2 linked regions of the Homo sapiens genome follow. The protein of the gene in region 2 interacts with the protein of the main gene of each other region in a biochemical or structural test. Each region holds a gene or a part of one and is shown on either strand. Other genes may lie near its edges.

Region 1 (3,949 bases), on a different chromosome or scaffold from region 2:
AAGCAATGGAGTCGGGCTCGGGTAAGGACACCCGGGTGCTCGCGGCCCAGGCCTGCAGCCACACAAGGCCGCAGCCGCAGTGGAAGGGATTGTGATAGAGTTGCAAGTGTGACAGCGCGCTAAGCGCGTCGAAGGTGCCAGGCGCCAGCGTACGCAGCCGGTTGTTGTTGATGCGCAGGGAACGCAGGTCGGGTAGCGCACCGAGTGCGTCCCGGGGCAGAGAGCCCAGGCGGTTGTGGTTCATTTTGAGCAGCTGCAGCGCGCTCAGGTTGCGCAGGTCGCTCCACGGAAAGCTGGATATGAAGTTGTGGCTCAGATCGAGGTTCTTGAGCTGACTCAGCACGGCCAGTGCGCCTGGCTCCACGGTGCGCACCTCATTGTGCGCCAGCCACAGCGACGTGACCTGTGTGACGTCGGCGAAGGCCCCGCGCCGCAGCACAGTGATCTTGTTCGCGGACAGACTAAGCGTCGTCACGTTGGCAGGCAGTCCTTCCGGCACCTCACGCAACTCTTTGTAAGCGCAGTCCGCGAACTGGTGAGCGTACTTGTCCACGCAGGCGCACGGCTCCGGGCATGATCCGGCCACTCCTAGAAGCGCCCAGACCAACCACAGGGCCCGAAGGGGGAACATCGCGGCTCCTGCAGATGGAAGCCAGGTGAAGAAGAAAGAAGGTGACTCACTGAACCCCAGCTTACCTCCCCTATCAAGCTGTGCCTCCGCAAGCCCGTTTAGCACTAGTTCCAGGGCTCCGGTAACCTCCTCTATGGCCAGGAGCCTCTCTGAAGTGAAGGTCAATAAAAATCTCGAGGTTCAACGGATGCTCCCTCCCAGGGCCCTAATTTCCTTTTCCAGCGGCCCGGTATATCGCCCTTTTTTCTCTTCCTACTCCTTCCTTCACGCTGGAGCTGGCCCCTCCGTGGGCTCCGCAGCTCGCCCATCTCCAGCGGGCTCCTCACGTACCCCTCTCTGTGTTTCTAAGCCTTCGTTTAACCTGGTGAAATGGATCCTACCCAAGAAGGACATTTTTGTCCGTGACTGGCTGTCCTCCCTGGAACCTTTGTCCCACGCACAGCACTCGCACACACGCCCATGCAGGCACACAACAATACAAACAGACGCGGGGCTTCATAATCAAACCGCCAACTTCTGCAGGGGTTTAGAGGACCTGATGCTCAATTAGGAGGCTCACAACACATTTCCTAAACTCACAAACACATATGCACCCAGACATGGACACAATAGACCCTGCAGACCTCATTGTTCTCTTAACCAGCATTTGTACGTGTTTTCCACCACGGTACAAAGCGCTTTCCTGTCCATTGTGACAATTGACAGACACAAGGACACAAGTCCTCACACGAACCGACCCACCCACAAGAACACAGGCATGTGCCTGTGTGTGCATACAGCCCTCCACTGTGACCGAAACCCAGCAGAGAAGCAATAGGAGGACCTGCACTGCACGACTTGAGATGTGGGATCTGGGGAAGCCCATCCCCATGCCCTACTGCATCTAAGGCCAAAGTCACCTGCCCGGGGCTGCAGCTCCTGTGAGGGGAGAAGAAGGGCTGCTCTGCCAACCTTCCTTACGGGGAAGGAGGTTCTCCCCCATGTTTGGACCAGGTGTGTTGGGAAAGCGGTCACTAGAGCTTCCTCTCAGGTCCCTCAGGCGGCTCCCATTGGGCAGAGGCGTCCTCAGCCAACAGGTCATGGGGCTGCCACTAGCTAATGAAGCTGGAGAAGATGAAAGATTCTGCGCCTTTCTCCACAGCTCTGCGGTGCCTAAGGACCCCCTCCCCATAACACCTTAAGCCCGGTCACACAAACGAACTTGCACAGACTCCCTGCCCCCATTTGGAGCGCCTGTCAGGTTTGGCAGAGCCCCTCCCACAACTTGTCTTTGGGAACCTGCTCCTTCACTCTGCCTTTGCTCTTCTGGGAGGGTCCCTTCCCTCCCTTCCCGGTTCCTGCCAGACAGCACCCCCACCAGCCCCGCACCCCATCAGGTGCCCTAGGCTGGACCTAACCCCACCTGGGTCAAGGTTGTGGGGTGGCCCCCATTGCTTACCCAATATTCGCCGACTCTCAGTAAATGTCCTGGGGCTGAAACCCCTTCTCCAGACCCGGCGTGGCAGAGCAGGGAAGATAGCCCAAGCAAGATACACGCATGTGTTGTGGCTGTGGGGAAAACGGGGGGCGGGGGGCAAAGAAAGGGACAGGTAAGTTTGGGGACTTGGTGGCCCCAAAGTACCACTTCAATTTTTCCTTTTGCGTCCGTTTCCCCCACCTCTCTGGCTGCAGGTTGGAGAAAGTCCTTGCGCACTCCCGGGCCTGGCGGGGACGCGCATAGCCTCTCCCGCCTCCTGCTTGGTCTACTTTTGTTAAAGCCACGGAGACCCTCCCCAAGGCCAAGACACGTCGGTCATAAGGGGCATCCCACGCCCACTGTCCTGGCTGGGCTCTTCGCAGCCTACTGCACCCCCATAACCCACGTACCCCCACATTTACACAGCCGCTGGCATTGTTACTGTCCCTGATCACACCACCTCCCCCACCCCACGTTCAAACACATTCGCGCACACAGTCCCTCACACCCTCCCCATAGCCGACCTTCACAGTTTACAATCATCCATGGTCAGGTAATAATCGCATCAATGTGTTCAGCCCCTGCTACATTCACACGCATTTTCACGGGCACACCTGCACCCGGGACACTTACCGTTCTCCTCTCGCACACGCATACACACATTCACGCGAACTCACCCTCACGCGCCTGTCCCGCCAGCGCCCGCGAGCTTCGCTGCTAATTGAATGCAAGCCGCTTTTACGCCCTGCAACACGTGAGACAAACCATCTTTGAGGAATTTGGGGGAAGGAAAGGCGCGCGGCTGAAGTGGGGGGGGAAGGCGTGTCTTTGCCTTTAAACTCTTTTTGCAAATGCAGGCGGTGGCACCGACAGACTTCGAGCGGGACCCGCTGAGCTGCGCGCAGCCGAGCTCGCGCGGACCCTTCCCTCCCGCACCCCCCGCTGCTAGCCGCCTCCTCCCCGAAGCCACGTTCAACATGATGCATAATTGATAGTGTTAGCAGAGCGCCGCACCCTCCCTACCATTTTTGCCTGGATCTGGGCTGATATAAGCCCTAGTCTCCCCCGCCCCGCCGCCCCAACCCCCCCGCCCCGCCTGCTAGTCTAACCCGACACCAGAACGCACAGCCCTGCAGGGCGTGCTGGGAAGGGACACCCCCCTCCCCAGCCCACCGCAGCCCTGCCCAGCCTCTTAAGCCGGAACTCTTTACTTCTGGTCTTTTGTGGCTAAACCAGCGCTTGAAGCCCACTGCCCGACGCGTTGGCCTGCGCGCACCGCGGGACAGGTGGAGCAGGGGGAAGCTCTCTCGAGCGCACCCAAGCACCTCACTCCAGGTCTTGCCTGCTCCAGGAGAACGGGGCACGGAAGCTGCAGCAGACAGTAGCACAGACAAGGATGGTGGCAAAACGTCCGCTACTCTTGAGCACGGTGGGCTGGGGACTTCAGGCCCGAGCATTTCTCCCATATCTGCCCCCCATATCTTCACAGCCTCTCAAGCAGACACACGGTCAACCCCACACGCACTATCCCCCAAGCCGCGGTGGCCCCTCACCGCCCCGCCGTCTCACACCCTCACACAACAGCCGGCTTCGGCAGACTCGCTGTTCCCGACTGTCGCTCCCTAGCTCTGATGAAACCCCGACATTTCTTTCAGCGACGAGGAGGCGGAGGCGCGGCGATGTCGAGGCATTTGGCTAAAACCCGGTTTCCGCCCCCCTGCGCTGCCCACGTTAGCCCTGGAGACAGCTACCGGCCATAACCAGGAAAGGGGTTCAGGCTCCGGGAGACACGCAGAATCCCCACCCATTCTGTAGCCACTGAGCTCTCTGGGAGCACCAAGCCCCACAGCCATCACCCCGGG
Region 2 (3,500 bases):
CCCAGGTGTACTTGAGCTGTGAGGTCATCGGAATCCCGACACCTGTCCTCATCTGGAACAAGGTCTGTGGCACAGACTTTAAGAGACATCCTAGGCTGACAAGCTTCTCTTGCACTGCACAAGGATGGTAAAACGTTAAATCCTCAGCCTGCTTTGTTGACTGCGGCTCCCGCAAGGTGAAGCCTTAGGGCAGTCATACAGGCCCCTCCCCTGGATTCATGGAACAAAAACCAGTCCCTGCCATGCTTTTGTTAGCAGCATCCTAGAATCTGAGAAACTGGAAGAACAATAATGCTGAACACCTGAACCCACCTTCAGGGTGTGTGTGCACCTGTGGTGTGTGTATGTGTGTGCATATGTGGGTGCGAGTGAAAGTGTGTGTGTCTGTGTTTGCGCCCTCAGTGGAGACAGTATAGCATAGGGGTTAAAAGCGTACGTTTCTCTCTTTCTGTCCCAAAATACCACCTCCAAGCCCCCACCAAGCTGTTTGTGATGGCATCAGTCTCCTCATTTAAGACTGAACATTTAGCTGATAATTTAGATCCTGTCTGCTTGGAGGCATTATTATTATTTTACTGGGAGGCTCGGCTAAGAAGGTAAAAGGACACAAAGCCCTGTAGCCTTCTCCTGGGAGCATGGATTATTTTTTCAGATTCCCTAAGTGCTGGGAGATGGATGAGTACATTTTAAGGGCACTTGGAAGTAGGATAGAAGGAATGAGGTGGGATCTATTCTCCTAAGTACCAAGGCTGTAGAACCATAAGTTAGGGACAGAGGAGACCACTCCAGAACAGAGCATTAAAAAGGAACAAGAGGAGGAATAGCAAAGAAAAAAATGTCTCCTTTCTGAATTTTGCTAAATGCTGGCCCCAGCCCCAAGTGGAAAAAGCATGATATTCTTTTAATAAATCAGCTTTGAAATGACTTCCCAAATGGAAAAAAAGAAAAAAAAAAGTGTGAGGCTGGGTGCAGTAGCACATGCCTGTAATCCCAGCACTTTGGGAGGCTGAGGCAGGAGGATCACTTGAGTCCTGGAGTTTGAGACCAGCCTGACCAACACAGTGAGACTTCCTTCTTACAAATAATTTTTTTAATTAGCTGGGCATGGTGAGGCATGCCTGTGGCCCCAGCTACTCAGGAGACTAAGGTGGAAGAACCCCTTGAGCCAGGAGATTGAGGCTGCAGTGAGCTGTGATTGCCCCACTGCACTCTAGCCTGTCTCAAAAAAAAAAAAAAAAAAAAGAGTGTGAATTCCTTAGCCAGGGTGGCTGAGTTCTCTGCAAGTCAGGGTTTCTCAGCCTCAGCACTATTGACATTTGGGGCCAGATAATTATTTGTTGTGCGGGCTGCCTGTGCTTTGGAAGATGTTTAGCAGTATCCCCAGCCTCTACCCACTATATAACAGTAGCATTCCCCCATCCCCCCTGTCGTGAGAATTAAAAGCATCTTCAGACATTGCCAAATGTCCCCTAAGGGTGTGGAGCTGGGGAATTGCCCTGGACTGAAAACCACTGCTGTTAGCCTCAACTCTGTTCTCTACCTTATAAAAGTAGCATGTAATTATCATAAAGATGAAATAAAGTAATGCAAGTAAAAATTACTTGATACATAGTTAGCACTCAGTAGACATTAGCTACTGTTCCTGGAAATTTTTCCCTTCAAGTGGCATTATCTTGTATAATTATCTTCATATTTGAAGGACAACATCATCTCAGCATGTATGGAGAAGGGAAAAGAAAACACTTATTTGCCATCAACTAACACCTCACAATTATACCATACACTTACGTTTTTGTCTTTTTTTTTTTTTTTTTTTTTTTGAGACATAGTTTCACTCTTATTGCCCAGGCTGGAGTGCAATGGCACCATCTCGGCTCACCGCAACCTCGCCTCCCGGGTTCAAGTGATTCTTCTGCCTCAGTCTCTCAAGTAGTTGGGATTACAGGCACCCGCCACCACGCCTGGCTAACTTTGTATTTTCAGTAGAGACAGGGTTTCTCCATGTTGGTCAGGCTGGTCTCGAACTCCCGACCTCAGGTGATACGCCCACCTTGCCCTCCCAAAGTGCTAGGATTACAGGTGTGAGCCACCGCGCCTGGTCGTTTTTGTCCTTTTTATACATTTTGAATTGCTGAGCCTCACAACTATCCTACGAAAAATAAAAATTAAAAAATTATCAAACTCATGCTACCAAAAAAGGAACTTAGTTTAAGTAAAAGGGCATAACCAGACATCCATTTTAAGCTGCCTTACTTCTCCAGCAAGCTCTAAGGTGGATGATAGTCTCCCTTGACTATTTTGTTTGCTCTCTGTGTGACCGGAGAAGCAACTTCTAGAACTCCAGGAGGACTGTGGCTCCCGCAGTCGGAGCTCTTTCTGTTGCAAGTTCTACCAGCCCATTTGAAACCAGCCTAGGCAAAACAAAAAGCGGGGCGGGATCCAGCCTCAAGGGCCCCTGCATCCAGGTACACACGCCATCAGAACTCTAACTCTTGACTCTTTGCTCTCAATATACTAGTCTCATTTTCTTCTGCTTCAGAAAGCTTCCTATGCAGTGGGAGATATCAACTCCACTCACATTTTTATTACAGCTTAAAGACCCCAGAGGAAAGAAAGGGCTTCCCTTCTCCCTGCTGCATTGTGAAAATCCCACGAAGGGCTCAAGCCCAGGTCGGGTCACCTGCTAAGCTCTGGCTCCCCCATGCGGCCGGAGGGATGCGGCCACTGACATTGGCACCGGCGTGAATCCGCCTGGTTTGTGTAAAATCTGGGAACAGGTACCAGAAAATGCCTGAGGTGGGGGTGATGGCAGAGGCAACACTACTATACCATCCTTTACAGTGAAGCTTCTCTTAAAGGAGCAATAAAATTTCACCCCGATCAGTTATGTTTTTAAGAGGAAGGCGGAGCAAGAGTAAGAGCAGAAATGCAGTCCGTGGATGGGTTCCCCTCCATCCTTACTGCAAGAACTGCAGGCGTTCCTCACTGCTAATTTGGAGATTGCTGGTTTGCTCAGGGTGTGGGGAGGTGGAGAAATAATGTTCCGAGGAATACCCATGAAAAGCTCCGTTGCAGTTCTCTACAGTTTTCTAGGGATACTTACACAATGAGAAGCGAGGGTCACCCAAGCGTCCTGGGGCATGTGACCTTATTGGCAAATCTTGGCAAAGAATAATTTCTTCAGTCCTTGCTCTACCCAATCCCAGCTACAGTATTCACATACCAGAGGAATACGTCTGCCTCGGGAATCTTTTCCCTTTTAGGACTGTACAGGGCAGATCCCAATAGACAAGGCCTCCCTGAGTGCTTGTCCTCAGGGCTAGTCAGAAACACCAAGGCAGTTGAGGCTGGTGTGGTGGCTCGCACCTGTAGTCCCTAGCCACTCGGGAGGCTGAGGTGGGAGGATCGCTTGAGCTCAAAAGGTGGGGCTGCAGTGAGCTATGATGGCACCACTGCACTCCAGCCTGGGCAACAGAGCAAGATCCTGTCTCTGAAAAAAA

The links.
Region 1: the proteins of IGFBP7 (region 2) and ISLR2 interact in a biophysical measurement, tested with the Homo sapiens proteins (one large-scale study listed by IntAct).

The regions. Positions count from the first base shown.
Region 1 is NC_000015.10:74,129,437-74,133,385, reverse strand, and holds the start of ISLR2 (immunoglobulin superfamily containing leucine-rich repeat protein 2 precursor), read right to left. Parts: upstream 2,801-3,949; 5' UTR 2,765-2,800; exon of another isoform or gene 2,612-2,764; intron 2,571-2,611; exon of another isoform or gene 2,289-2,570; intron 2,180-2,288; 5' UTR 2,070-2,179; intron 640-2,069; 5' UTR 632-639; coding exon 1-631. UniProt on the Homo sapiens protein: Required for axon extension during neural development.
Region 2 is NC_000004.12:57,037,386-57,040,885, reverse strand, and holds part of IGFBP7 (insulin-like growth factor-binding protein 7 isoform 1 precursor), read left to right. Parts: coding exon 1-62; intron 63-3,500. UniProt on the Homo sapiens protein: Binds IGF1 and IGF2 with a relatively low affinity. Stimulates prostacyclin (PGI2) production. Stimulates cell adhesion. Acts as a ligand for CD93 to play a role in angiogenesis.